Homo sapiens: one gene and its partners. The protein of the gene in region 1 purifies or fractionates together with the protein of each later gene. This does not show direct contact. Each region holds a gene or a part of one and is shown in the gene's direction. Other genes may lie near its edges.

Region 1 (3,917 bases):
CTTTATTTGAGTCATCTTATTTAACTTATTTGTAAATTCAACAGATAATTCTTGGGCACCCACCACATACAACATAGTGCTATTCTAAAGACTGGGAATACAATTGTAAGCATGACAAACAAAAGCCTCTGTGGAACGTACGTTCTAGTGTGGAGAGACAGATATTAAGTAAATATCAAGCCATGATGAGATCCTTAACTAAAAATAAAACAGATTGATGGAATGAAGAGACCGCGGCTACTTTAGAAGAAATTTCCAGGGGAGGTTTCTCTGAGGAGTAATATGAAAATCCATCCATCAGAAGATGGGGTGGGGGAAGTGCTTTCCTAGACAAGGGGACAAGGGGACACTGTGCACAGGCCCCAAGACAGGAATTTGCCCAGAGTATTTGAGAGAGGGCAGGCAGGCTGGAGCTCAGGAGGAGGGGGGCACATGATAAGGAAGAAGGCCAGAAAGGTGAGCAAAGGCCAGAACACACAGGGCAGAGCTGGCGTTTGCACTTACTCTGCTGCTTTGTGGAGAACAGATCATAGGTGAGTCTTAGGGCAGCAGGAGGCCAGTTGGGAAGCTACCACAGTGTCCATGAGCAAGTGCATGGGGGCTTGGGCCCAGGATAGTGGTGGTGGGGATGGAGAAGTCAACAGATTTTAGATCTTTAAGTAGTAGCAACAGAACTAGCTGGCAAGTTGGGACAAGTTGGGGAGAGGCAGTAAAGAAGAGAGAGGCAGTGGGGAAGACTACAGGAGGAGCATGTTTAGGGTAGGGAAATCAGGACATCTCTGCTGTGGTGTTGTTGAGATGTTTTTTAGCCCCCAAATAATGTGAATGTCAAGTGAGCAGTTGGAGTTCAGAAGCATCAGGGCTGAAGATGTAAAGTCACAAGTCATTAGCATGTAGGTGGGGTTAGATGCGATTCCCACAAAGGAGTAGAGCTGTAGAAGAGAACAAGAGAACAGGACTGTACCACAAACTTACCAGGTAGCACTGCTTACATTCCCACTCTACAGATAAGGAAAACAAGCTTAGGTGGTTTCAGTGATTGGCCCAAGGTTCTAGGAAACAGTAGCACTGGGATTGCACCCAGGCAGTCTGACTCTATAAGCTCTACTCCTAATCACTTGGCTGTAGTAGGCAGGTCCACACAGCAGTGCTGTTTTGCTTCCTTCATGTGCCACAATTTCTCTGCAGGAAGAAGATGATGATGGTCTGCCTAAGAAAAAGTGGCCAACGGTAGACGCCTCTTATTATGGTGGGAGAGGCGTTGGAGGCATTAAAAGAATGGAGGTAAGAGGACAGCTTCATATACACTTATCTATGTGCTGACTACTCCCATCGAGGTACCAGCCGGGCCTGACCCTGCTTAGCCTCTAGATATCAGGCATGCCCAGGGCAGTATGGCCGTAGACCACACTGATGACTCAATGTCAGAAACCCAAAGCAAATTGCTGAAAACCTCCTTGAGGTCTGGTGGGGATATGGATTGTAAGGCAGACGGATGGAGAGATAGGAGGGACAGCCTTTCACTGTGCGTTTCCATGTCTTGCCCACCGTGAGTCAGAGCAGGTCACACATCAGCTCAAACGTCCTCGTGATTTCTTTTCTCACTGGAATAAAATCCAAAGTTCGTACCTGAACCTGCAAGGTCTTTGCATGTGCTGTCCCCGCTGCCTGGACAATTCCTCCCTAAATATCCACCCATGTGGCTCAGCTCTCTGCTCCTTTGGTCCTCCCCTTTTCTCTTTTTCCACAGTTTCCCTCTTCCCTGGCCCTCAAAACCCAAAGGAATCCAGGGTTGGGTAGCATTCACATTGCAACTCATGCATGTATTTGTCATTCTCATTCTCGAGGGGCAGCATATTTTGTCATTTCATTTCATTGTATTTTGTTTATTTTAGGTTCGTTGGGGAGAAAAGGGCTCCACAGAAGAAGGTGCTAAGTTGGAAAAGGCAAAGAATGCAAGAGTCAAGATGCCGGAGCAGGAATATGAATTCCCTGAGCCGCGAAATCTCAACAACAATATGCGTCGGCCTTCTTCCCCCCGGAAGTGGTACTCTCCAATCAAGGTGTGTCTCTTTACTCAAAAAATCTATCATCAGTCCTGATAAAACACTTACATAGTGAAGAATCAAAATCTTTCCACATGATAAAATCCCAACCTAAAACCCAGCTTATCACAGGGGAACAATTATCTAAAATTATGGACTTGAAAGTACTAGTAATTACTTTGTCAATTTCCACATAATCTGGGTTGAAAACTAGGCTTTTTAAAAATCACCGTGGTGCTCACTTCTGCAGCACATATAGTAAAACTGGAACAATATAGAGAAGATTAGCATGACCCCTGGGCAAGGATGACATGCAAATTCGTGAAGTGTTCCATATTAAAAAAAAAAAAAAAATCACCATGGCAAGGTACTGGAAAAAGCATGGACTGTGAGTCAAGTAACTTGGGTAGTAACCCCAGAGAGTGACTATAAATTTCCATAGCATCTCATAACTTCACTTAGCAGACAATCTACTATCTAAGAAAAATGGCAGCCTTCTCCTTAATGCTAATCTCTACTCCTTTTGCCATAATATAAGCCCATTCCCTTTTATTTGCGCCTCCTGCCAGTGTATCAGGGCCCACCAGCAAATCTCACTGGTCATGGATCTAGGACTCACTCTTTCTGGTTGTAAGCAAATCTTTTTTCTCCACCATCTGTCTTTCCCCCACACCTCCAGATCTTAAAATCCTCTTTGGTTTATTGGGAAGTGTAAACCGTTGGAGGCAGTTAATGTTTCCTAAAGGCCTCTTTTTTATTTTCTATTTATTTATTTTTTGAGACAGGTTCTCACTCTGTCACCCAGGCTGGAGTGCAGTTGTGTGATCTCTGCTCACTGCAACCTCGACCTCCCAGGCTCAAGCCATCCTCCCACCTCAACCCCCAAGTAGCTGGGACTACGGGCACGCACCACCACACCCAGCTAATTTTTGTTTTTTTTTTTTTTTTTTTTTTTTTGAGGGACGGATTTCACTATGTTGCCCAGGCCTGTCTTGCACTCCTGATAAAGCAGTCTGCCCACCTCGGCCTCCCAAAGTGCTAAGATTACAGGCATGGGCCACCATGCCCAGCCTGAAGGCCTCTTTTCTATTCTTCTTGGTCCAAATGGCTTTGAATTCACATGATTCAGTTAACACCTTCAATCTTTAGCCATGCCCATAAACATCTGCACTATGCCACTTGTCAGAGAGCACTGGAAAATTATAGCTGAAAAGACTCTAGACATAATCTGTCCCCACTCTCTGATTTCATACTGAGATAGGCAAAGTCCTTGTTCTGCTGAGGTCTGGAAAACAAGGCCCCCAACTCAGGGCTACAGACTCCAGTTTCAAGCTGCAAACAGAACCGAACCAACTCCAAAGCCTCAAGTCAAAGACTCAATAGAGCCAGCTCCCATCACCATCCATACACATACACACACTCACACACACACACACACACAGCCTTACCCCCCTTCCAATAGCAACAAAGATTATTTTCATCATTCGCTGAGTTAATTTGCTAATTTTGGATCAGGGCTTCTCCAACAAATCAAAAGAAGTACCATTTCAGGCAGTGTAGCGAAACGTTATTGGTGGTTACCTTTCCTCAGCTGAGCTAGCTCAAGCTCACCTGAATTGCCACGCATTTCTATTTTGGTTTGCCATGTTTGAAGCAGTGAGATTCTTTTTTTAGGATAAGCCTGCCCTCTGGGGTAATGGATTGAACTCTGGAAAGATGTGGGCAAAATGCAGCTTGCTTGAATAACAGCTGTTTGCTTCTAATTATTTTCTAATGAAGAACATGCAGTGGCGTGCATGCATGTGCAGACAGGAAGGAGCCAAGCAGATTCTCAGCCATGAAGAAGAAAGGGGATTTTCTGTTATGCCGTTC
Region 2 (4,423 bases), on another chromosome or scaffold:
TAGCACAGGGAATGGGTTCAATAAAGAGTTTTTTTCTTTTGAAAATTTTTACTCAGGTAAAATTCACATAACATCAATTAACCATTTTAAAGTGTACAGTTTAGTGGCATTTAGTACCTTCACAATGTTGTGGAACCATCATCTCCATCTAGTTCCAAAATGTTTTATCACTCCCAAAGGAGTCCCTATACTCATTAAGCAGTCATTCCCCATTCCTTCCTCCCCACCCCCACTACTATGCTTTCTGTCTCTGTGGATTTACCTATTCTAAATATTTCATAAGATGTAATCACATCATATGTGACTTTTTGTGTCTGGCTTCTTTCATTAGCATACATTTCTGAGATTCATTCATTGTAGAATGTATTAGCATTTTATTCTCTCCCCCCCACCTTTTTTTTTTTTTTTTTTTTTGAGACAGGGTCTCACCCTGTGGCCTAGGCTGGGGTGCAGTGGCATGATCTTGGCTCACTGCAGTCTCCATATCCCAGGTTCAAGCAATCCTCCCGCCTTAGCCTCCCAAGTAGTTGGAACTACAGTCCCTTGCCACCACACCAGCTATTTTATTTTATTTTATTTTTATTTTTAGCAGAGATGAGGTCTTGCTATGTTGCCCAGGCTGGTTTCAAACTCCTAGTCTTACACGATTCTGCTGCCTCAGCTTTCCAAAGTGTTGGGATTACAGTCATGAGCTGCCCTGCTGGGCCACTTTATTCCTTTTAATGGCTAAATAACATTCCATTAGATGGATGTATCACACTTTGTTTACCCATTCATCCTTTGACAGACGTTAGAGTTGTTTCTACCTTTTGGTTATTGTAAATAGTGTTGCTGTGAACACTGGTGTACGTGCATTTGTCTGAATACCTGTTTTCAATTCTTTTGGGTATTAGCCTAAGGGTGGAATTGCTGGTCATATAGTAATCTATGTTTAACTTTTTGAGGAACCACCAGATTGTTTTCCAACAGCTCAATAATGTTTTACTGAAGTTAAATAGAATAAGCAGGAGGGAGTCTGGGAGGCAGGGATGAGGGCTTTTCCTGTCCTTCACAGGCAGCCCTGGACTCTGCCATTTACCGGCTGTGTGATCTGGATCAACGTACTTAAATTCCCTGCGCTGCCTCCTAATCCTCAAAGTGGAGAAAATAAAACCTAATTTCTGTGAGCTGCGTGAGATACTGTTTCTGAAGCTCCAGGCACAGAGTAAGCCCCCGCTCATTAATTGCCTTCCCTTACTCCCTGACCTTGCCTTTTCGCACTTCACTCGCTGCCACGTGGCCTCGGAGCCCAGTCCGCACCCGCAGCCCCCAGCTGAGCCAGGCTGCAGACTACAACTCCCAGCGAGCACTTCTTCCCGGCCGCCTCTCCCCAGCTGCTGCGCATGCTTTGGCAGACGTGGCACCGGGAACTCGGAGGCGGGGAGCGGCTGGGAAGTGGCCGTGGTGGTTGGCCGCGGTGGAGCTAGCAGGCGGGCGGGCGGGAGCGGGCGCCGGAGTGGAGAAAGGAGCCAGCGGTGGGCAGCGCTGCTGGGATGGCGCGGGCCGGGCCGGCGTGGCTGCTGCTGGCAATCTGGGTGAGACTGTGGGGCAGGGATCCGGGCCGGGCCAGCACGTGTGTCCCGCGTGCCCTTCTGCGCTCTCTGCTCCAGCCCTCTGCGGAACGTGCGGGGAGCTGCCCCGGGGCACCGGGATGAGGGCGTGCATGCCAGGCAGGCGGGCACTGGGTGCTACGCGGGAGACAGCGGGCGTCCCGGTGCCCTCGCCGCCAAGCGCTCCCGGACGCAGGGGCAGGAGGCAGCTGTGGGGCGCCGGGAGATCCCTGGCAGGGTGCTTACGCCACGGCCACAACTTTGCGGGGATGCAGGTCGGGGCACAGCCGGTCGGGCAGGACGCCGGCGGGCTGCGGGGTGAGCTCCGCTCCAGACTCCGAGCCCTGCACCTGTGTGAGTGCGGGGTGGGATGGGGGTGCTTACTACCTGCACTGCCGGAAACCTTGGTTTAGGGCCACCTTGTTCTTGGCTTCGGCCCCAGGCGTCTGGGAAACTGCGGGCCACCACCTGGGCCTCCGCCCACAGGCCAGGCTCGGTGGGCTGGGTGGGGTCGACGTAGCCCGCCCCGGCGGAGGAGCTGCTCCTACACCCAACTGAGGCGGGCTCGAGCCTCAGCCACTTTCTAGCTGTGTGACGCGGCGGTTCATTTAATGTATCTGAGCTAGTTTCCTCATGCATGATATAGAAAGGCAAAGCTACCCCCATAGGGTGGTTCTGAGAGTCGGATGAGGTCTCAGTGGAGGAAGCTGTGTAAACTGCAAAATCTTACAAAAGTGGAAAAGGAGTGGACTCCAAGAGTAGTTTGCTACACTTGGTGGGGGGGACTCCAGGCATCCCTGAGAGAGGTCGGAATGGGTGTGCCTGCCGGCCCAGGTCTGGGGTTTGGCCTTCGTTTCGCTGTGGGTGTGTGATGAGATATTGTGGCCTCCTTCCCCATCTTTTCCATAACTTATGCGCTCCCTTATTTTAGGACCATCCTGGTCCTTTTCCCCTGAAGTTCCAGGGAACTTCCTGTTCCTGGCACCCTCCCCCCAACCCAGATTTTCCCGTTCTTTTCCATTTGGGTGTGGCAAGGACACTGGGCAAATGGGAGGAGAAAAGTGTGGGTTGAGTTGCTTGAAACACTTCCATCTCCCAATACCCTGGCCTTTTGGATCACCAGTGAGGAGTGGCCTGGTACTCTCTGGTTGGAAGTGGGTGGGGAAAGAAGCCCCCTGTTCTCTTCGGTCTGTGTTCTCCCTCTTGGGGAGAACCAGGCTGGAGTGGGGCAGTGTCACTTAATTGCGTCTGGGTTTGTTGAATGCTGGTTTGCCATCAGTTCCCTGGAGCCAGTTGGTCTGGGCGGGTCTCTGGGCCAGGAGGAGGGAGCTATCTCCTGAAACGCCCCCCATCGGTCTTTGCACTTGGGCTGAGTAGGAGGTCCTGCTTTCCTCCCTTTCCCCTCCCTTTTGTGAAAACAAACGGCTTGAGAATCTGAAATTTCATTCGGCAGACATTTATTTGTCAATCACATTGTTTGGATTGATATTTTGCCCTCCACTGGGTTAGATTTTGGGCGGAGAGCAAAACACACATTGTACCTGCCGTCTGGTGTTGCCCTGGATTGGGCAAAGGAGTCAGTCCTGTGAGCAAATAATGACAGAACTGCAAGTGCTGTGACCTTAAGTACTAGTATCCTTCACTGAACCGGAGCCATACGTTGATTTAAAGGGAGGTCAGCCATGGCTTTCCTGAGGTGGTAGGGTTGAACAGAGTCTGAAAGATGTGTGGTAGTTAGCTAGGCAGTGGAGGGCTGCAGGTCCCCTTCACCAGGAGGTGCGGAAGAGCAGGTAGGTTTGCTGAAAGCACTAGAACCTGGGAGTCCTGAGCAAGCAATTTCTATCTTCTCCTTTCCCTAAGCCCTAGAGTTGGCTTAGCGGGTAGGAGGTGGAGGGAGCATGCCAACAGGAGCAGTGGTGAGTGATTGCTGGACAGCGCGTTGGGTCTTTGTAAATTTAAATGCTGTATCTATCTGATAAGTGCTCCCCAGGTTCCTGGAAGCCGGTTGGGTTTCTTTGTTCACTCAATATTTACTGAGGGCTGATATGTGCACAGGACTGGGCTGTGACCTGAAGGGTATAAAGGCATCTGCAGGGATTCGTGTACAGGGATATACACCCACCACATTTTTTACAATAGCAAAATGTGGAAATGGGTTAAATGCTCAATAATAGTGGCATGGTTAAATAATATCTGGCCTTGTCCATATCATGGAAAGTGATATTTATCTTTTTCAGTTTGGCCTGCTATAAGAAATATCCCATAGACTGGTGGTGTAGAACAATTGAAATGTATTTTTCACAGTTCTGCAGACCAAAAGTCCGAAATCAGGGTGCCAGCATGGTTGAATTCTAGTGAGGACCCTCCTCCAGAAGACTCTTGACTTCTCACTGTATTCTCATATGATAGAAAGAAGACTAGACAGTTCTCTTGGGTCCCTTTTTCAAGGGCACTAATCCTATTCATGAGCGATCCACCCTCATGACCTAATTACGTACCAAGGGCCCCACCTCCTAACACCACCACTTTGGGGGTTAGGATTTTAACATATGAATTTTCAGGGGAATGACAGAAATACTCAGTCCTGGCCGGGCACAGTTGCTCACACCTGTAATCCCAGCAGTTTGGGAGGCTGAGGCGGGTGGATCACCTGAGGTCAGGAGTTCGAGACCAGCCTGGCCAACATGGTGAAACCCCGTCTCTACTAAAAATACAAAAATTAGCCAAGCATGGTAGCGGGCGCCTGTAGTCCCAGCTACTCAGAAGGCTGAGGCAGGAGAATCGCTTGAACCCAGGAGGCAGAGGGTGCAGTGGGCTGAGATCGCGCCACTGCA
Region 3 (2,947 bases), on another chromosome or scaffold:
AAAGTTTATTTTTAGCCTCCTGCTCCCCCGCTCCCAGGACTGTCGCTGCACACACGTTGCCTGGTTACCGGGACACGGAGGCTGGGGCGGGTGGGCTGGGAAGGGTGGCTTTAATTTTGGGGGGAGGGTGGAAGTCAGTACATCCCCCACCCCCAGATTGATGTCTCAGGGGCTTTGGCCCCCCTTCTAGGTCTAGAGCCAGATTGGGGCTGAGGTGGAAGTAACATGGAGCTTGGTTCCCTGAGAGGGGCTGGGAGCTTTTTGGAGGGGATATGAGGGTCCATGAAGCTGGTGGCTGGGTCACCTGGGTTCCAAAGGACCCTGGGCCTTGCAGGAGACCTTGTGATCTGGATTCTCTAGAAGGGTGAGGATAATGGGTTGAACACCTAGATTCCCAAGAGAGCGATGGTGCTCTGGGGTCTCTGGAAGGGGTTGTCAAAGGCTGTCACTTTTAAATGGAACAGGGGCTGTTGGTGCTGGTCTGTGAACAGCTGGAGGTCATATCCCTGGCACCCTGAGGGGCTGGTGGAAGGCTGGGATATATCTGAATGGGGCAGGGACTCCGGGGGCTATGTGGTACTGCAGCCCAGTCTGGGCAGGAGTTGGGGGCCTACAGTGAGCTCTGGATTTGGAGGGGGTGGTCCCTGTGGGAGCAGGAACTACTGATTCCCTGGATTCCCAAGGGGAAGGATCCCTTGTTGGATTCCAGACTTGGGTGGAGTCTTTGAGGGTGGATGTGTTGCCTGGAGGCCTTGTTGGTACCTGTTTGAGCTGGGGCCAAGGGAGGCGGATTGACCCCTGCAGCCTGACTGGATTTGGGAGCCGCCCATCTTTAGCTGGCCACCTTGGCCTTCTCTCTCTAGTGGCACCAGGGACCCTGCTCTGCCTCCCCACTCCTTCCCTTCCTCCCCTTTCCCTCCTCCCACCCCTCCATTACCGGCTGCCTGGTGCTGAATTATTGATGGCCCCTGTTGTTGGGAAATGACAACAACCGCAGTCCCCCCACCCCCCACCCCCCACCCCAGGCTGCCCACCCCCTCCAGAGACCAGCCAGCCCACCGCCAACCTCTACCCAAGGTTAATGCTGGGGGTGGGCAGGCAGGTGGGCAGGGAAGGAGCTGAAGATGAGAAGGCAGAAGTGGGAAGAGGGTGACAGCTCCAGGGTGCCTGCTCAAGCTCCAGGCCTGGGCTGGGCCCTCCAGCCAGGTGGGGCCTGGATGCCTGGGTCTGGGGAGGGCAGTGTAGCTCAGAGGGTCCAGGGCTTGGGGGGCCTCTCAGACAGTCTGGGTTTCACTCTCCAGGGAAGACAGAAGCCTCTGTGTGTGCAAGCGCTGACCTCATCGGCAACCGAGTCACCCCACCCCTCCTGGTCCTTTTAAGAAAAAAAAAAAAAATCTTCCTCTCAGGTCTTGGGGTTGGGAGTAGGGGCTCTGTTGGGTCTTCGGAGGAGACAGTGCATGTTTCTAAGGAGGACATCCGAGGAGCTGGGGTGGTGCAACTGGCTCTGAATGGGAGTGGGGGTAAGCTGGGGGGCTGTACCCCAACCCGGCTGGCCACGTGTGCCCCTTCCTGCCCCTCCCCCACTGGCAGCCCTGCCCGCCAGCCTGGCTTGGTGCCTGGCCCCCTGGCACTGGCCCCGGGACCCACCGCCGACGGTTTCCTGTTTCTCCCGGTGTCGCTGGAGCGGGCTCCAGCTTCCCCTCCCCCCCAGCTCCTGTCTAGCCCCTCACATGCAGACAGACAGACACGCACTGTCTTCTCTTAAATCAGATCTTGACTTGGCTGAGGTGAGACAGATTTCCCCATGTTGAAGGCAGGGCAGAGGTGGACCCTGGGATGGGACCCAGAGCCCTGGACTTGGCAGCCTGACCCCAGGCCACTCCCTGCCTCCCGTCCCCAGGGTTTGCCTTCCCGGATTGGGCCTACAAGCCAGAGTCGTCCCCTGGCTCAAGGCAGATCCAGCTGTGGCACTTTATCCTGGAGCTGCTGCGGAAGGAGGAGTACCAGGGCGTCATTGCCTGGCAGGGGGACTACGGGGAATTCGTCATCAAAGACCCTGATGAGGTGGCCCGGCTGTGGGGCGTTCGCAAGTGCAAGCCCCAGATGAATTACGACAAGCTGAGCCGGGCCCTGCGGTGAGGACGGGCTGGGGACCCCTGAGCACATGTGGAGTGCCCCCCCGGGGTTGCACAGCCCCTTGCCTGTGGGAACAAGCATTGGGTCTGACCCCTGGCTTTGCCAAATCCTAGCTGTGTGACCTTGGGCCACTCCCAGCCCTTCCCTGAGCCCCTTGGTAACACAGACGTATCCTGAGGAGAGATTACAGTCACCAGTGGATCCTCTAGTCCTGCCTTAGATGTGAGGAGAGAGCTGGTACCCACCCTCTGGGCACTTGATTTGTCTTTTGTGGCCTACGTTCCTCAGTTGGCCTTTGGGAACCACACCTAAGTGCGTGTTAAGGTGTGGAGTCTAGACCTGGGTCCCACGTACCTGACCTTCCCAATGGCATTTCTGTACCCACAGCTATTACTATAACAAGCGCATTCTGCACAAGACCAAGGGGAAACGGTTCACCTACAAGTTCAATTTCAACAAACTGGTGCTGGTCAATTACCCATTCATTGATGTGGGGTTGGCTGGTGAGTACCAGGGATGGTTGGTGTGGAGAGGGTCTACATGCCCCTTCAGGCTAGGCCAGGGGCCTTGACACTGTCTCCCTTCTGCCAGGGGGTGCAGTGCCCCAGAGTGCCCCGCCAGTGCCGTCGGGTGGTAGCCACTTCCGCTTCCCTCCCTCAACGCCCTCCGAGGTGCTGTCCCCCACCGAGGACCCCCGCTCACCACCAGCCTGCTCTTCATCTTCATCTTCCCTCTTCTCGGCTGTGGTGGCCCGCCGCCTGGGCCGAGGCTCAGTCAGTGACTGTAGTGATGGCACGTCAGAGCTGGAGGA
Region 4 (3,917 bases), on another chromosome or scaffold:
GTCACGGTAACAACGGGGAAAAAGGGACCTGCCCTTCTTCCCCTGCACATTTTACAGGCATGTGCCACCACACCTGGCTAAGTTTTTTTTTTTCTTTTTTTTTTTTGAGACGGAGTCTTGCTCTGTTGCCAGGCTGGAGTGCAGTGGCGCAAGCTCGGCTTACTGCAACCTCTGCCTCCTGGGTTCAAGCAATTCTCCTGCCTCAGCCTCCCGAGTAGCTGGGACTACAGGTGTGTGCTGCCATGCCCAGCTAATTTTTGTATTTTTAGTAGAGACGGGGTTTTACCATGTTGGCCAGGATGGTCTCAATCTCTTGATCTTGTGATCCACCCACCTCAGCCCCTCAAAGTGCTGGGATTACAGGCATGAACCACTGTGCCCGGCCTAATTTTTGTATTTTTAGTAGAGATGGGATTTTACCATGTTGGTCAGGCTGGTCTCGAACTCCTGACCTCAGGTGATCCGCCCTCTTCGGCCTCCCCAGATGCTGGGATTACAGGTGTGAGCCAGCGCGTCCGGCCTCTACTGCTTTTACAGTTCCCCCAACATGGATTTCCATGGTGGCAGGTGCCTGGGAGATTCAGTGGCCTCCCCTCAGCCTAAATTCCACAGCCCTCCCGCCGGTCCCCTGCTAGTCCAGTCCCCTCTCCCCCTGCTGGTCTGCAGGAGCAGCCGAGCCAGGGAACCAGGTGCTCTCCCAGCATTTGTGACAACAATAATGCTCTTCCCTTCAGGCCCGCTGTGGCCTTGGGGACTTTGTGGCTCAGGGACAACTTTCTCCAGAGCTCATATCCAGTGCTGAGTGGGGATTCCTTGGTATAGGAGTTTTTCTCGGTTTTCCACCCATTATGTGGGGGTTTTCCTCTGACGACCCTTCATGACGCAGGAGCTGGTTTCCTGTGTGAGATTTCCCGCAGTCCTCCCTTGGAGCTAGGTCTTGGGCCAGCAGGTGCCGTCTGCGTGCTACCATTGAGTAAGGGCAATGGGCTCATGGTGGGAATGGCCGTAACGTGGAAGAACTCCACCCTCCACGAGTTTCACCCCCTTGTTCTCTCTCTGCTTGCTCTGTCCTCTTATTCTTGGCTGCTAGAGTTGGATGTTATTTCTCTTACTTGCATCCCTACAATGAGAGGTGGGCATGTTGGGGAAGGTTCCCCCCAAACCACTTGTCTTATGGAACTGAAGAAACTGAAGCCTAGAGAAGGCTGCTTAGCAGAATCCAAGATGCTGATCCCATTGTTTATTCTTCTTTTAAAATTGCCATATTTTATTGATGTCTTCCCTTAGATCCATCAATAGAGAGGGAAAATCAGTCACCAAGAAGGGACCTCTTCTTCCAGGTTATGTAATTTGTCAAAGCTTGTTTGGCTCCTCAGTTCCCAAGGCACTGCTGACTTGAGCTTTGCCTAGGGACTAAGGCTCTGTAGTCTAAGCTTGTCACCCTCCCCTCCTCTTCAGCTTTCTCCTGGGGGGACATGGATGTGGCCCTTTGTTGTGTTGTTAAGTGTTATGCCTGAAGGCGTTACCCCAGGTACTCCCAGCACTACCTCGGGTTTCCTACTCTTGTGTTACCTCCTTGTCCTGATATGCCTCGAGGCCAGAGAAAGAGGTGGGGCCGGGAGGGCACGGGACAGCTGGGAGTACATTTCCACTGCCTGTGTGTGGAAGGGCCTGACTGCTTCTGTGGCAGCTCCTTTCCTGATGACATCCACCATGACATCACAACGAGGCTTTGGGAAAATTCCACGACCTGGCCATGCTGAGTCATACTTAGTCTCTGGGGATGTGTGTCACCTTTCTCTTGTCTGTCACTGAGTGCTGCAGTTACTATGAAGTGACACATGCTGCCCATTTATTACGTTTGCACATCACTTTATGCTGCTTTGGAGCCTCTTCTCATGTACATGCTGTGTATCAATGTGAAATGTATTAATATTAAATCATTAATAATAAGTATATTATTTATTCTGGAAAATATTTGTCTCTTGCAATGTGTGAGGAACCAGAGGTTCAGAGAGACTAGAGACTAAGCGACTTGGTGAGTTTCGGGTGACTGGTGCGTGGCATGTCTGAGGGAGGTTTGGATGCCACACCCACTCCTACCCCTGGATTTTTATGTAATGCAAAGATTATTCAGAAATTACTTTGGTCGAAAACAATTGATTTTCAATTTGTTAAAATTATGAATTCAGAAACCTAGTTATTTTAAGGGCCAGTCTTTTAAGTTTAGCTTATAAGTGTAGCCTATAAATCTTTCTGATCTATTTACGATTCTAGGACATTTTAACAGTCACTTTCAGGGGGCTTTTATTTATTTATTTTTTTTGCGATGGAGTCTCGCTCTGTCGCGATCTCGGCTCACTGCAACCTCCGCCTCCTGGTTCAAGCGATTCTTCTGCCTCAGCCTCCTGAGTAGCTGGGATTACAGGCGCCCGCCACCATGCTGGCTAATTTGTATTTTTAGTAGAGGCGGGGTTTCTTCATGTTGGTCAGGCTGGTCTCGAACTCCTGACTCAAGTGATCTGCCCGCCTCGGCCTCCCAAAGTGCTGGGATTACAGGCGTGAGCCGCCGCCCCGGCCTTAGGGGGCTTTTTGATTAATGCTTGGTCCCATTTGCAAATTTGATGAAACTTCTGAAATGTTTCAATTGAACTTATAAATCATATTCAACTTCAGTTAACTATTTTAATAATTCTTCTGGCCGGGCATGGTGGGTGGCTCACGCCTGTAATCCTAGCACTTTGGGAGGCCAAGGCGGGCAGATCACGAGGTCAAGAGATTGAGACCATCCTGGCCAACATGGTGAAACCCTGTCGCTACTAAAAATACAAAAATTAGCTGGGTGTGGTGGTCACGCGCCTGTAATCCCAGCTACTTGGGAGGCTGAGGCAGGAGAATCGCTTGAACCCGGGAGGCGGAGGTTGCAGTGAGCTGAGATTATGCCACTGCACTCCAGCCTGGCGACACAGCAAGACTCCATCTCAAAAAAATAATAATAATAATAAATAATAATAATAATTCTTCCATTTTTCTGATTAAAAAAACCCTCTAATACCTAAATGACTCTTGTAAATCTAATAAATGAAGCTGAATATTACACTTTTCTTAAACTTTCCTATACCGTTTTATGTTTTGTTTGTTTATTTTTGTTTATTTTGAGACGGTCTGATTCTGTCACTCAGGCTGGAGTACAGTGGCACAGTCTCAGCTCACTGCAACCTCTACCTCCTAGGCTCAGGTGATCTTCCCTTTTCAGACTCCTGAGTAGCTGGGACTACAGGTTCAAGCCACCACACCCGGCTAATTTTTGTACTTTTTGTGGAGACGGGGTTTCACCACATTGCCCAGGCTCATCTCGAACTCCTGAGCTCAAGCAATCAGCCCGCCTTGGCCTCCCAAAGTGCTGGGATTACAGGCGTGATACATTTTAGTTTTTACAATAGCTTTATTGGAGTATTACTGAGATATAATAAGTTGCACATATTTAAAGTATACAGTTTAGTAAGTTTTAACATATGTGTACCCTTGTGAAACCATCACTGCAGTCCAGAGAGTGAACACATTCATCACCTTTGGAATTCCTCCCTCTGCCTCCTCACTCTTCAGGAAACCATGGAACTGCTTTCTGTTACTATAGGTTAGTTTCCATTTTCTGGAATTTCACATAAATTGACTCATACAGTATATATTCTTTTTTCTCTGCCTTCTTTTACTCAGCATAATTATGTTGAGATATGTCCATGTTGTTGCTTGTATTGATAGTTCATTTCCTTCTTTTTTTTTTTTTTAAGACAGAGTCTTGCTCTGTCACCCAAGCTGGAATATAGCGGCGTGATCATAGCTCACTGCAGCCTTGATCTTCTGGGCTCAAGTGATCTCCCATCTCACTGAGTAGCTGGAACTACAGGTGTGTGCCA
Region 5 (4,514 bases), on another chromosome or scaffold:
GACCAACACATTACTGTAAAATTGTGCAATTCCAGCAACTTCTCTGTCCATTCCCTAGGGTCCAGACCTCTGGCTACCCGAGCAATCCTGTGAGCAGAAGTATCTGGTCAGGGGTGAGAAGAGGAGCTGGTTGCCAAACTGGGCCCTTAAGAAAGTGGAGATCCCTCCTGAATGCTCTCATGATTCTCAGGAATTCCCTTCCTTCCTAGTTCCTCCATGTCCCTACCCCAAAAGATCTCAAACTCCAGCGTGCTTAGAGATCTGACTGGTGGCTGTCTTCTCCTCTGGCTTGCATTCAGGGAGGTGAGGCCAGGTCTTGGCCCTTCAAAGCCATCCAGTTGGCTACCTTCTCCTTCGGGATGGGTGGAAGGCTAAGATGAACAAAGGAAGGGTCAACTGTGCCTCTTCCAGGCCGCTGAGTCCTCCAACGCCTAGCTGTGCTCAACCTTGACTGGGTGAAGCCAAGGCAGGGCCTCAAGGCAGGTCCAAGAGGCAGCTCCCATTCTCCAGTTCTGGGTTTTATAGGTGGGGAGAGGCATGTATGCCCCTCCCTTATCCAAGCATTCATTAGTCAATTGAGAATTCTTAATTTGGGGAATCTAGGGGCTAGACTTTGGGTGTGGAATTTAAAAAGAAAGGTCTTTATGTTTATTTAACTCCCTGCCCCCCACCCCACTCCTAGACACACACACGGAAACACACACACACACACACACACACACACACTCCCCATCACATCCTCTGAGCTAGAGGCTGATGTCCCTCAGCCCATGTTCCTCCTCCACTGCTTAGTTCCATAGCCCGCGACCAAGATTGCGTCTATAAATAGGAGGGGGTGGGGTGGCCAGGGGTCCCGTCGTGCCTGCCCCAGAACCCACGACGGTCACATTTTTCACCCCCTTTTGCCTTTGCCCTCAATTCCTTTCCCTCTTTGCTCTCCTTCCATCTCAGTTCCAGCGAGGGGGGTATGTGTGTGCGCGCGTTGTGGGGGGGCAGGGGGAGGGCTCGTGGAGGGAGGCGCCGTCGGAGGGAGAGTAGACGTCAGGCGGAGGGAGGGAGGCAGGCAGGCAGGGAGGCAGGGAGGGAGAGAGGGAAGGAAGAGAAGGGGAGAGAAAGGGGGAGCAAAGACCGAAAGAGACCCAGAGAGATACAGCTTGAGAGGAGAAATAATTAAAGGGGGAGGGCGACCAGGAGGAGAAAAAGGTCTGGGAGGAAAGAGAGATAAAGAGAATCGGAGGGCAGGGAAATGAGTTTGTGCGCGTGAGTGTGCGCGCGCGCGTGTGTGTGTGCAGGGGCGGGCGCGGGCGGGCGGGGGGCGGGCTCCCGGGCTCCCGGGCTCCCCTCCTCCCCAGCCCGCTCCTCTGGCTCGCTCGCCAACTCCGGGCCCCAGCCGCGGGCGGGCGCACGGCGGGCGGACAGCATGCTGAGCCTCCTCGTCTGGATCCTCACTCTCTCCGATACTTTCTCCCAAGGTAAGGGCCCCCAGCCCACCCCCGGACGCTCGGCTTCCCCCCGGGGCCGGGGCACTGCTTCCCCGGTGGGAGAGTGCTGGAGTGCCCCGCGGCCCGCGGCCAGTCCCCGGGTCCGGACGCCACGAGGCGGGGGCTCGGTCCGGGCGCAGAGCCCTGGGGGAGGGGGCGCGGAGTAACGAGGGGCTGGGGAGAATGAGTTTGCCGTTGATTTGCCCAAGTTGTTTCCTCTGGCTGCGCGGGAGAACCGAGCAATGGGGCCGCGAGGGCTGGAGGTCCGAGTAAAACGGGGAACCGAACGCTTTCTCTTGAGCTTCTGGCAGCCCTACCGACCCTCGCCCTCTGAGGCCGGGGTTCCGGACGCCTGAGTCCAGCCTAAGGGCAAGGCTGGGAAGAGGGTGGGATTTCGGATTTCGGGCGAGGGGGTGAGCGAAAAGCTGGGTCCCACCTCCCGAAGATGTTGCCAAGGGGATCCCCCTACTCCAGCCCAGCCCCTCGGGGGTCTGAGTCTGAATCACGGCTCCAGCCTGCCTGGGGCTGCCCCCTCTAGAGGAAGGGAGGGGTGTCTCGGCGCCTCTAGTGGGGATTTGGAACCCCTGCCCACGGAGGCTCTGGGTGGAGAGTGGAGTTCCACATACAGCTTCAGGCCCGCTTGATACAGAGGGGGGGAACTCACGGGGGCGGGGGCAGAGGCGGTGGGGGGAGGGGGCTGACACTCTACTTGGGCTCAGGAAAGTGTTGCTGTCTGGGGCTTATTTGACACTGGCAGGGGAGAGGCTGGGAGGTGAGGGAGGTGGTTGGGAGAGATGAGGATGTCAGTGTATCCTGGGCAGGGCTGGGGTTGGGGGAGGGAAGAGGGCTGAGGGAACCAAGGGTCCAGACTGCAGCAGGGACTGGGGTCTGTGGGAGTTGGTTCTTGCCTCCCAGGTCTGACTCTAAGGAAGACTGAATCCTGCTGAACTCCTTCCCTCCCCAAAAATGGAGCTGACACACAGAAATTGACACACAAACACCGTAAAACACTCACAGACACTGAGACAGACTACTCACCTACTGAGAGAGAGACATCCCCACAAACATCCCCCACACTGAGACAGACACATATACACAAAGACACGGAGACATCTGAGGAAGACAGATTCCTCCCCCAGATCGGCACACACTCACGCATTCATCCACCCGAACGTTACAACTATACACAGTACATGTATGCAGGCGTTTACAAGGACAGGACACACGCTCTCACAGAAACCAACCCTCTAGCAAACAAAGAAACTTGAACAGACATTCATATGGGCAGACACCTATGGAGATGTACAGACTGCAGATGGAGGAGGTGTCCTCTTTTAGGGGGTGTCTGGGAATGGATCTGGGTAGAACAGCCTCAGGCATTATTGCCCTGCTTTCTGTTCCCTTCCTGCGTTTGTAGGTGGTGTGTTATGCTGGACCTTTCCTCTCCTTGTCGGGTCTCTTCCCAGTTCCGAAGGCAAAGCCTGGCTGAGTTGGTGGGGGCACGTCTTGATTCATTTCTCCCCACAGGGCACCCATGCCAGCCCCCCAGCACACACTATGATATGGGAAGGGCACACATCTGTGGTGTGAGCCAGGAGTGGGAGGTGGTGCTAGGGGAAAGGAGGAGGCCTGGCCCTGGGGTTGGCAGGCCAGGCCAGCCACTTGGCAGAAAGTTGGGAAGATGACTTAAGTTCTGACTTTGTTCAGCCAGGCTGTTGGTGTCGGGGAGGAAGGGGGTGGGCCATGGTGGTGGTGGAGGGGGGTCATGTTGGTGGTGGAGGAGGCCCCTGGGTCAGTATTGGTCTATGTTGGGGGCAAGCTTATGTCTGTCCCTTTCTTACAGCCCTTACATGTCAGCATCATGGATACAAATGAGTGTTAAGGAACAAAAGCAGCAGTTAGCAAACAGGAGAGACATGTGGATTGAATTGGGGACAGAAAGAATTGTGTGTTGTGTGCCTTTCTCTCTTTGGAAAGGAGCGAGTGGCTAGGGAATGCTGAGCTCCCACTTCTCTGCTCCAACAGGGGTGAAAGCAGGACCTGGTGAAAGTGTCTGGGGTTGGGGGAGAGGATACCAGAGAAAAGAAAGGGAGAGACTAGACAGGAGGGGAGGGGAAATCACTAGTGAGTGTTGGGGGAAGCTTGGCAAGGGACTGGGGAGGAGGCAGAGAGGGAAGGAGTAGGGGTCTGGGGAGACTGGGACACACATGGGGGTGGAGAGCTTGGCAGGACCCCCTTTCCTTAGCCTCCATCCTCAGAAAGGAGCTCTAGGTCAGGGACTGGGGCAGTGAGAGAGGAAACGGAGGGGGGCGCTACAAAAGGGAGGAGGAATGATGGTGGGGGAATAGGGATGGGGGAGTAGGTGTCAGCAGGAAGCCATAGAATTGAGGGGAGCAGAGAGGAGAGGGGAAGGGGAGATTCAGCCTAGGCTGAGAAATAAAAATCGCATTTTAAAGAATTTCAATGGGCTTCATCAATCTTCATTTTTCACTAAATAATTTTCTGTATCTTATCTAAATGAAAACCATTATCCTTCCCCCCGTTTCCATCATGCGCCGGCTCCACAGACTGATTGCGCCGAAAATTGAAATATTTATTCATTTTCTGGGAGATTTTCTCGCTCCCTAGTCTCGGGGAGGAGAAATTGAAAAAGAAAGATTATAGCTAATCAGAGCAATGTGGGATGACAGGCCGGCTCGGGGAGGGAGCTGCCTCCGTGGGGGGGATGGATGTGGGGGCAGGAGAAAAATAAGCCCACCCAGCCCCCAGAGCTCCCCCTGGCATTCCTGCCACAGCTTTTGAGGGGAGTAAAGGGTAAAGGGAGGAGGCCCGAGGGCCTCCTAAATTCCCAGGATTCAACTCCCTGAGTACAGCTGAATCCTGGCAGAGAACAGCAGGTCTGGAGAGTAACTGGACTCTCCCCTTTCGGTGCTACACATAGACACATATACACACTTTAGATGTCCCACTTCTGCCCAGAGCAGGGCGCTGAGGTTGGGGAAGAGTCAGGGGAGACATGGCAGAAACCAGGAC
Region 6 (3,945 bases), on another chromosome or scaffold:
CCTCGGTGCACTGGCCCCTTCCCTTCCCCGCCTGCCTGCTCCTCTCCCAGCCTGCCAGCTGCCCTCCCTGCTCCCCTTCTTCTCCTCTCCCGGCAGATCCACTCAACTTGAACCCGGACTCTGAGGCTTAGCAGCCTTGGAGAAACCGTACTCTAGGAAGAAAAAAAAGCACACAGGAAAGAGACTCCTGACCCTTCCTCAAGGCTGCTCTCGCCCCACCTCATAACACTGGGCGCAGGCACAAGCTCCCAAAACTTCGGAATCTGGATACATTACTGTCTTGGAGGGGGTGAAAACTGCCCAGCAAAGCAAGCCGGCCTCTGTGCCCCTACCCAGCGGCCTCCCGCGGCCGGCCTTCCCTGGGAGCCTCGCAGAACCCCCGACCGAGTCTGGGAACGCCCGGGGGAGACAATAGCTCGGGCCTGACGCCCGACAGGGACCCTCTGCCCTTCCTTCCTCGCTGTCTTGCTCCCGTCCCTATAGGATACCCACCCGGCCCTGTTGCCATCTCCCTGGAGCGCCAGCGGTGGAGGCTTCGGAGGAGCCGGCCGGATGCACCGGGACCCCGCGGGGCCTAGTTGGGAGCGCGCCGCCCACTGAGGCCTGGGGGCCCGGCGAGGCGCGGGGGTGGCCAAGGCAGTCTCCCCGGCACACAGATCAGCACATGTCTACGCGCACACACCCAGCACGACCCTCCCTCCCCCAGCACACCCCAAGGGCCGCGCCCTCCGCTCCTGGGCCTGGTGGCCATGGTCCATGTGCCCCTGCCGGCGCAGGGGCTGCCCTGGAGTTCTCCATTAAGCCCTGCGAGCACTTCAGGAAGGAGCTCGGGCTTCTGTCATCCCGCTCAGCACATCAAAGCGCCGACGGCCGCCTTCGTGGGCAGGTGTGAGCGCTCGCCCTCTCTCCTCCCGAGCCTGCTATTTTGTGGTCCAGGACTTGCCATCAGAACTTGCTTTAACGCGACGAGGGAACTCACCTGTGTGCAGAGCGCCGCGCACACATCGGGGCTCGCGGGACAGGGCAGCTGCGTTAGCGCAGCGCCGGGTGTGTTCGGGTAGGTGTTGCGGGCAAGGAAGTAGGCAGCGGCCCCTGAGCAGCCGCCTCGCTCCGGCATTGCGGGGACACGGCGGGGCTGAGGCCACGAGAGCAGGGCCCGAGCCCGGCGGGCCGTGGTTACGGTTTTCTTGCACTGAAAAACTGAATCCGGCCCGAAGCGACGTGCACTTTATGGTCCCCACACCACTCGGTTAACTAAGAAAAGACCCGGGCGAATGGACCTAACGCAGCCCGGTGCCGAGAGGGCCCGGTCCAGCAGCCTCTGGGGCCCAGTGCGCAGGGCACTGCGGGCCGATTGCGCCCCGGGGCCAGGAGGCGCCGAGAAAGCAAAAGCAAAAGCCGGCGGCGGGTGGAGGTCAAGCGGCCCGGTGCAGGCCGGGGACCGGGGAGCCGCCCCGGGAGAGCAGGGTCCAGGCCTTCTCTGTCCCCCTCCAGCCTGGGGCTACCTCAGGGACTCCTCGCGCTGCCAGATGCTTCGGACCAAAGGGCATTTCTCTGCGCCCTGAAGTCCCGGCTTCTCTAGAGGAAGTCTAAGACGTTCGGGACCCACGAAGATGCCTGCGGAGGGGCAGGAGAAGAGGCGTGCTTTTCTGCCCCATCCCTTCATCTTGCGATTGGGTTGTTTTCTATCGTCCCCTTTGGCACAGGGAGTCCTCTGCGCTCGCTGCTGTGACCGGCCCAGTTAGTTGGGAAACAAGGCTCAGAAAGAAGGCCGCAGTGGTGTTTCTGGGGTAGGGTGCTTGGCCCTCCCTGAAGCCAGGGCTCAGGGCAGCACAGGCCAGGAGCTCTGCCGGGAGAGACCCGGAACCAGAGTCTGGGTCTAGTTGTCCGGTACCTGTGCTCATTCTGAGATTAAAGTGCACGCCCCAGCCTCAGAGAATAAAATTGGAATTCCAGGACATAAGAATCCCCCTCGAGGGGGAACTTGCTCTGTGTTTGTGCGAGCATCAAAACAAAACATAATGATTCCAAAGCAATTCTATGACGTGCAGTTGGTGTGTTTGAGCTACTTCTAAAGCTGGGCTTTCTCTACCAGCTGTCTAGCAATTTACTAAAAGGCACAGCAGCACCTTTTGTACTCTGAGGCAAAATAAGACACCCTGCCATCCACTGGATGACTTTGTTTCTGAAGAGGTTTTTTTTTCTTTCTTCTTTCAGTGGGACTGCCCCGTTACCAGCATCACTCTACTCCAGTGTGTGACAGAAAAGATTTCGTCCTCAACTTCAATGGGATTTCTTCTTTCCATCCCTCAGCTAGCGGGTCGTATTATCACCATCACCACCAGAGCGTCTGTCAGGATATTAAGCCCTGCGTCATGTGAACGGAAAGAGGCCAAGCGATGGCCGCTCTCTCCTCTCCCCTCCTCAGAGGGGGCAGATAGAAACTGGGACGGATTCAAGTCACATGCACGCGGATAGCAGTAAGCCACACACCTGCCACTTAGCCAGAATGCCCAGGATCGCGTTGGTCACTGTTATTTGCCTACTGCTGGAAGAAGGACAACCGCTGGCAAGGTAGCGTTCCCCAATCTGAATACCTGCAGGCTCCCACATGAGGGAGAGGGCAGACTCAGGTGGGAAGATGTGCCATGCGTAAGGCATCAACGTGTATCTGTGGGATCTTCGTTGCCTTCAGTAATCAGGGTGTGAAAAAAGCAGACAAGTTGTGTGTGTGTGTGTGTGTCTAAGAAAACTTGTGTGCTTTTCAAAAAGGCAGTGCTAAGCACAAGATTTCAAGAAAGCCTCTTCTTGTTGCCTAGCTGAGTGGGAGAGTCATTTTCCCCAGACACTACATTTGGATACAGGTGCCAAAGAACATTATTAAGGAATTATTTAGAAACAATGTGTCTAGTTTAAGAAAGTGGTTTTCAGTATTGTGACAATACAACGTTTTTACAAGGTTGTTTTCTACCACCATATTTTAAAGATATTTTTATGACCGTGTATACTCACACTTTGCTTGTATTTTAAAAGGAGGATATATTTGCACTTATGTATACTTTTACAGTTTGCCAAAATATTTTGTTGTAAAATTTTTTTTCAATAAAATGTATATAACAAATAGTTGTTTTAGGGGCTGATTTTCTCTTCGGGCACCCTGAGAGCAATGGATGCCAGTTTCTCCTCCCCGGCAGGCAGCTGTGCAACTCTACCCACACCCCCTCCAGTGGTGTAACTGACATGGTGTGGGGTCTGTGCCTTGAGTAACACAGGCCAGGTTCTGATTGTGAGTCTTCTCAGGAGAAAAACAGTGGAAGAAACGTTTTCTGTTATTTCTTTCTTTACTTCACCCCAGCTTTTTCTGGCAAAACAAAAACCAGAAGGTGAAAGGAACTAGAAAGAAAACCAGGCAAGATACCGACCAGGGTTTGATTTTGAGGAAACCAATTTTGTGCCCCTTCTGTTTTCTTTCCTGTGCCCGGGGAGTGTTCTGCCCTTTGCCCTCTCTCCCTCCCGACTGGCATGGGTTGACAGATGTGGGGCACAGTGGTAAGCCCCCCTCCAGGGTTGGATGCCCAAAGAACAGCACCCTGCTTCTTCCCTTTGCACGTTGCAATTTTGTTATGGGTGGCGGTCACATGCTGTCAGAAATGGGGTTCAGATCTGAAGAATGCAGGGGGATCCCTGAGCTGCAGGGGGCAGGCTCCCAGCAGGGGGTTTAACTTCCTTGGGGAGTTTAATACAGAAGCTGGACTCCCCACACGTTGCTCTGTGGCTGCGGCCTGTCCCACCCTCCAATTCAGAGCCTGGCTGGCCCTGCTCAGCATCGGCACATAGCAAGCCGGTTCAGCCCTTCCTTCCTCCCGGCCTCCTCTCCCCACTCCTCCCTTTTAACCAGGGATTTAACAAGGGAACCCCTCAGCCCCTTTTTCTGTTCCTGCTAGA
Region 7 (3,917 bases), on another chromosome or scaffold:
GGTTCATCTCTAGCAAGTGGTCTCTAACTTTCCCAGGCAGAGTCCCTGTCTACAGGGCAGGCTCCCTACCCACTGACTTCCTGGAACAGAAGCCAAGCTGTCAGGAGGGAGGGACAAGCTGTGGGCTTATAACATTTTCTTAAGAAACACGTGGTGGTTTCTTGCCAGGCAGGAAGTGTTTGTTTCCACATCGTAGCCACCTGAACCATGTCTGATCCTTCCTTGTTCCTCGTCTGTCTCTCTTTGCACCCCAGGCACCCAGGCATGTGGAATATGCTCATAGTGGCGATGTGCTTGGCCCTTCTGGGCTGCCTGCAAGCCCAGGAGCTCCAGGGACATGTCTCCATAATCCTGCTGGGAGCAACTGGGGACCTGGCTAAGAAGTACTTATGGCAGGGACTGTTCCAGCTGTACCTGGATGAAGCGGGGAGGGGTCACAGTTTTAGCTTCCATGGAGCTGCTCTGACAGCCCCCAAGCAGGGTCAAGAGCTCATGGCCAAGGCCCTGGAATCCCTCTCCTGCCCCAAGGACATGGCACCCAGTCACTGTGCAGAGCACAAGGATCAGTTCCTGCAGCTGAGCCAGTACCGCCAACTGAAGACGGCCGAGGACTATCAGGCCCTGAACAAGGACATCGAGGCACAGCTCCAGCACGCAGGCCTCCGGGAGGCTGGCAGGATCTTCTACTTCTCAGTGCCACCCTTCGCCTATGAAGACATTGCCCGCAACATCAACAGTAGCTGCCGGCCAGGCCCGGGCGCCTGGCTGCGGGTTGTCCTTGAGAAACCCTTTGGCCATGACCACTTCTCAGCCCAGCAGCTGGCCACAGAACTCGGGACCTTTTTCCAGGAGGAGGAGATGTACCGGGTGGACCATTACTTAGGCAAGCAGGTGAGCATCAGCATGGAGCCTGCCAGGGCTAGGGTGAGCTGGGCGCTGGTAGACCCCAGCAACAAAGCCGCTCGCTCATTGTGGAGCTAGGCCCCAAGGCATTGTGAACTCAGAGCTCCCATGGTCTCCTTGAAGGTGGGCAGGAGGCGAGCGGGTAAAGGAAAGACAGCAGCAGGGCAGGACTGTTGGGTCCTTGTCCATGTGTCTGGCCTCTTTTGTCCTTTGCAAAGCCCCCGTTCTCGTTGTTTCCCAGTCTGGGCTCTGGCTTCTCACGGTTGCCCTGCATCCCCTGTAGCGGTGGCTCAGCAACTCTGGTGTCTGGATCTGGCTTCCTGTTGGGTGTGCTGTGGGAATCAGAATGAGCTCTCTTCTCCTGCACCCATCCACCTTTTTTTTTTTTTTAGACAGAGTCTGCTCTGTCACCAGGCTGGAGTGCAGTGGCATGATCTCGGCTCACTGCAACCTCCGCCTCCTGGGTTCCAGCAATTCTCCCGCCTCAGCCTCCCAAGTAGCTCGGAGTACAGGCGCGCATCACCATGCCCGGCTAATTTTTTGCATTTTTAGTAGAAATGGGTTTTCACCATGTTGGCCAGGCTGGTCTCAAAATCCTGACTTCAAGTGATCCGCTCACTTCGGCCTCCCAAAGTGCTGGGATTACAGGCGTGAGCCACCGCACCCTGCCCCATCTACCTTTTTTCAAAATGTTTTTCTTCCTGAGTTCTGTTTTGAGCCAGAAGGTTGGCAACAAGAGCTTAAACCAGGGAGCAGTAGGACCTTAAGTCCTGGGCAGGAGCATGGGTTAACCTCCTGGGTGACACATGTCCGTTGACCAGTTCACTCAAAATGCCTTGGAGGCCCTTGGGGGCATCCTGCCCCAGGAACCCTGGCAGAGAGTGCAGCAGCCCTGTGTTCTGGTACGTGGTGCGGGTGGGCATAGGCAGTTGTTGAGGACAGAGACATGGCCTTCCATCCCACCCTGCCTGGAGTTGCCCATAGTAGGATTCCTAAATAGGGGTCCTCAGAACTGGGCCAGTCCTGGGGAGGTTTTCACTTGTTTATGGCAAGATGAGAAGAAATACAGAATGTGCTCAATTCAGAGCTTTTCTTTGCTACATTTTTGGTGTTAAACCTATCTTTATTTTATTAAAAATTGATTGTAATAGAAGATAGGTAATTCTAACTTTTTTTCTTGGCAAAATACAAATCTGGTAACCCTTTGGAGGTCACTTGCAAGTTTTTGGAACCTTTACTGGCCTGTGAGATCGTGAAGTCCAGAACTACTGCTCAGAGGGCATCTTCTGCTCTGAGCAGGGAATAGAAAGGTCAGAGCCCTTCCCGGGAGTCAGGGTTCCTCCTTCATCGTGAGAGTATCCTGCAGCACGCCCAGTCTTCCCCCCCCGACAGGCTGTGGCGCAGATCCTGCCTTTCCGAGACCAGAACCGCAAGGCTTTGGACGGCCTCTGGAACCGGCACCATGTGGAGCGGGTGGAGATCATCATGAAAGAGACCGTGGATGCTGAAGGTGTGTGAGTGGCCCTGCGCACTCGGTCCCCCAGCCTCTGCCTGCCCGCTGTCTGCGGTGAGGCATGGGGCGCTTCTCAGAGGGAGGTTTTCTGTGGGTGTGTGGTCTCCCTTCGAGCCTGCCGTGTGCCTAGCTCTGAACCGGGCTAAACCCCAGGGTGCCGGCTGCAAAGCCCAAGTAGCCATTGCTGCCCATGAGGAGCGTATGGTCCAGAGAAGTAGGCCTGGCACAGAGGCGGGAAACCACTGGCACGCGGTAGAGGCTGGAGTCTCCCTGAGGTCCCCCAAGTTTTTGAGTGCGTGGAGACCATGGGAACTGCGTGAGGGCTTCCCCGACTGTGGTGCTTGCAGCCGTGGCGCCCCCTGCCTGGGGCACTCCCCCTCGCGTCCCCCTCACCTTCTGACCCCTCTCTCGCTTGTTAGTTCTCAGCTCCATGGCCCTCCAGGAAGACTTTCTGAGCCCTGCAGGCCCACTCCCCTCACCCTCACGGCGCCACACACCTCCCTCCCCTGCCCTGCACAGTGTTACCCTTGCCTCGTCCTTGTCCACCCTGTCTCTTCTGCCAGCCTGTAGGCTCCAGGAGGACACCGCCTCTCCCGCACTGCCACACACCTCAGACACACTGAGTATACACCCGGGAGGCGGGGGCCCTGCGTCATGCCCACCGCTGCCTTCAGCTGGGTGGCCTCAGCATGTCACTCCTTGCAGCTGTGAGATGAGCATGTCCTGTCGGTGAGGACAGCTAAGGTCCCTTAGCTGGCATTCTGTGATGGTAGCAAAGTTTTGGAGCATTGACCGTGAAGATGTAAAGCACTGGCTCTTGCCCAGTAACGATAAGAGCTGAAGTTTACTGTGTCCCCAGTCCCCAGCCGCCAGGTGAGGTGGGCGCTGTTACTAGCCTCCTTACAGATGAAGATGGTGGCGAGCCCACAGCCCCACAGTAGAAGGCGGTGGAGCCTGATCCTGGGGGCAACAGTCTGGCCCCAGCACTCAGGCCTGGCGCCGCTGCGCTGTGCTGCCAGCGCTGCGTCAGTGGCCAGCTCATCCCCGCGGCCGCTTTCTGCAGCTGCAGCGGGAGCACCCGAGGCCACTGCCCCCCCAGCCCCCGCAGTGCGTGCCCGCCACAGGGCAGGGCCCAGAGCCCTGGACCCAGGGATGGGCCAGGAGGTTTCTCCTCTTTTTCTCTCTCCCTTGCTCTTTCTCTGGGCCATTTTCTCTTTTTCTTTCCCCCGCCCCTTGGTTTCTCTTCAGCTGCTTCTCCCTTCCTCTCTGAATGTGTATTTAGTGCCAGAAGCTCTCTGCGGGGCCGAGGTGCCACAGTGAGGTACAAAACTCAGCCTCTCAGATATGGCTCCCTAATACTGCCCAGATTCACGGGTGCTGTGGGGGGTGATGATCTCATCACACTGGCTGGTGGGACAAACTCCAAAATGGAGCTGGGCGCAGTGGTACACCCGTAGTCCCAGCTACTCGGGGGCAGAGGCGGGAGGATCATTTGAGCTCA

The links.
Region 2: the proteins of ANTXR1 (region 1) and PDIA5 purify together in Homo sapiens (affinity purification with mass spectrometry; 3 studies listed by BioGRID and IntAct, with this or other methods). This does not show direct contact.
Region 3: the proteins of ANTXR1 (region 1) and ERF purify together in Homo sapiens (affinity purification with mass spectrometry; 3 studies listed by BioGRID and IntAct, with this or other methods). This does not show direct contact.
Region 4: the proteins of ANTXR1 (region 1) and PC purify together in Homo sapiens (affinity purification with mass spectrometry; 2 studies listed by BioGRID and IntAct, with this or other methods). This does not show direct contact.
Region 5: the proteins of ANTXR1 (region 1) and KIRREL1 purify together in Homo sapiens (affinity purification with mass spectrometry; 3 studies listed by BioGRID and IntAct, with this or other methods). This does not show direct contact.
Region 6: the proteins of ANTXR1 (region 1) and FOXF2 purify together in Homo sapiens (affinity purification with mass spectrometry; 3 studies listed by BioGRID and IntAct, with this or other methods). This does not show direct contact.
Region 7: the proteins of ANTXR1 (region 1) and H6PD purify together in Homo sapiens (affinity purification with mass spectrometry; 3 studies listed by BioGRID and IntAct, with this or other methods). This does not show direct contact.

What each region holds. Positions count from the first base shown.
Region 1 is NC_000002.12:69,180,598-69,184,514, forward strand, and holds part of ANTXR1 (anthrax toxin receptor 1 isoform 1 precursor), read left to right. Parts: intron 1-1,188; coding exon 1,189-1,284; intron 1,285-1,895; coding exon 1,896-2,063; intron 2,064-3,917. UniProt on the Homo sapiens protein: Plays a role in cell attachment and migration. Interacts with extracellular matrix proteins and with the actin cytoskeleton and thereby plays an important role in normal extracellular matrix (ECM) homeostasis.
Region 2 is NC_000003.12:123,065,633-123,070,055, forward strand, and holds the start of PDIA5 (protein disulfide-isomerase A5 precursor), read left to right. Parts: upstream 1-1,392; 5' UTR 1,393-1,532; coding exon 1,533-1,574; intron 1,575-4,423.
Region 3 is NC_000019.10:42,249,519-42,252,465, reverse strand, and holds part of ERF (ETS domain-containing transcription factor ERF), read left to right. Parts: intron 1-1,025; exon of another isoform or gene 1,026-1,077; intron 1,078-1,301; exon of another isoform or gene 1,302-1,520; intron 1,521-1,900; coding exon 1,901-2,135; intron 2,136-2,523; coding exon 2,524-2,639; intron 2,640-2,727; coding exon 2,728-2,947. UniProt on the Homo sapiens protein: Potent transcriptional repressor that binds to the H1 element of the Ets2 promoter. May regulate other genes involved in cellular proliferation.
Region 4 is NC_000011.10:66,948,078-66,951,994, reverse strand, and holds part of PC (pyruvate carboxylase, mitochondrial precursor), read left to right. Parts: intron 1-3,917. UniProt on the Homo sapiens protein: Pyruvate carboxylase catalyzes a 2-step reaction, involving the ATP-dependent carboxylation of the covalently attached biotin in the first step and the transfer of the carboxyl group to pyruvate in the second.
Region 5 is NC_000001.11:157,992,257-157,996,770, forward strand, and holds the start of KIRREL1 (kin of IRRE-like protein 1 isoform 1 precursor), read left to right. Parts: upstream 1-1,388; 5' UTR 1,389-1,420; coding exon 1,421-1,472; intron 1,473-4,514. UniProt on the Homo sapiens protein: Required for proper function of the glomerular filtration barrier. It is involved in the maintenance of a stable podocyte architecture with interdigitating foot processes connected by specialized cell-cell junctions, known as the slit diaphragm.
Region 6 is NC_000006.12:1,392,479-1,396,423, forward strand, and holds the end of FOXF2 (forkhead box protein F2), read left to right. Parts: intron 1-2,217; coding exon 2,218-2,381; 3' UTR 2,382-3,125; downstream 3,126-3,945. UniProt on the Homo sapiens protein: Probable transcription activator for a number of lung-specific genes. Mediates up-regulation of the E3 ligase IRF2BPL and drives ubiquitination and degradation of CTNNB1.
Region 7 is NC_000001.11:9,244,671-9,248,587, forward strand, and holds part of H6PD (GDH/6PGL endoplasmic bifunctional protein isoform 2 precursor), read left to right. Parts: intron 1-254; coding exon of another isoform or gene 255-264; coding exon 265-891; intron 892-2,295; coding exon 2,296-2,413; intron 2,414-3,917. UniProt on the Homo sapiens protein: Bifunctional enzyme localized in the lumen of the endoplasmic reticulum that catalyzes the first two steps of the oxidative branch of the pentose phosphate pathway/shunt, an alternative to glycolysis and a major source of reducing power and metabolic intermediates for biosynthetic processes.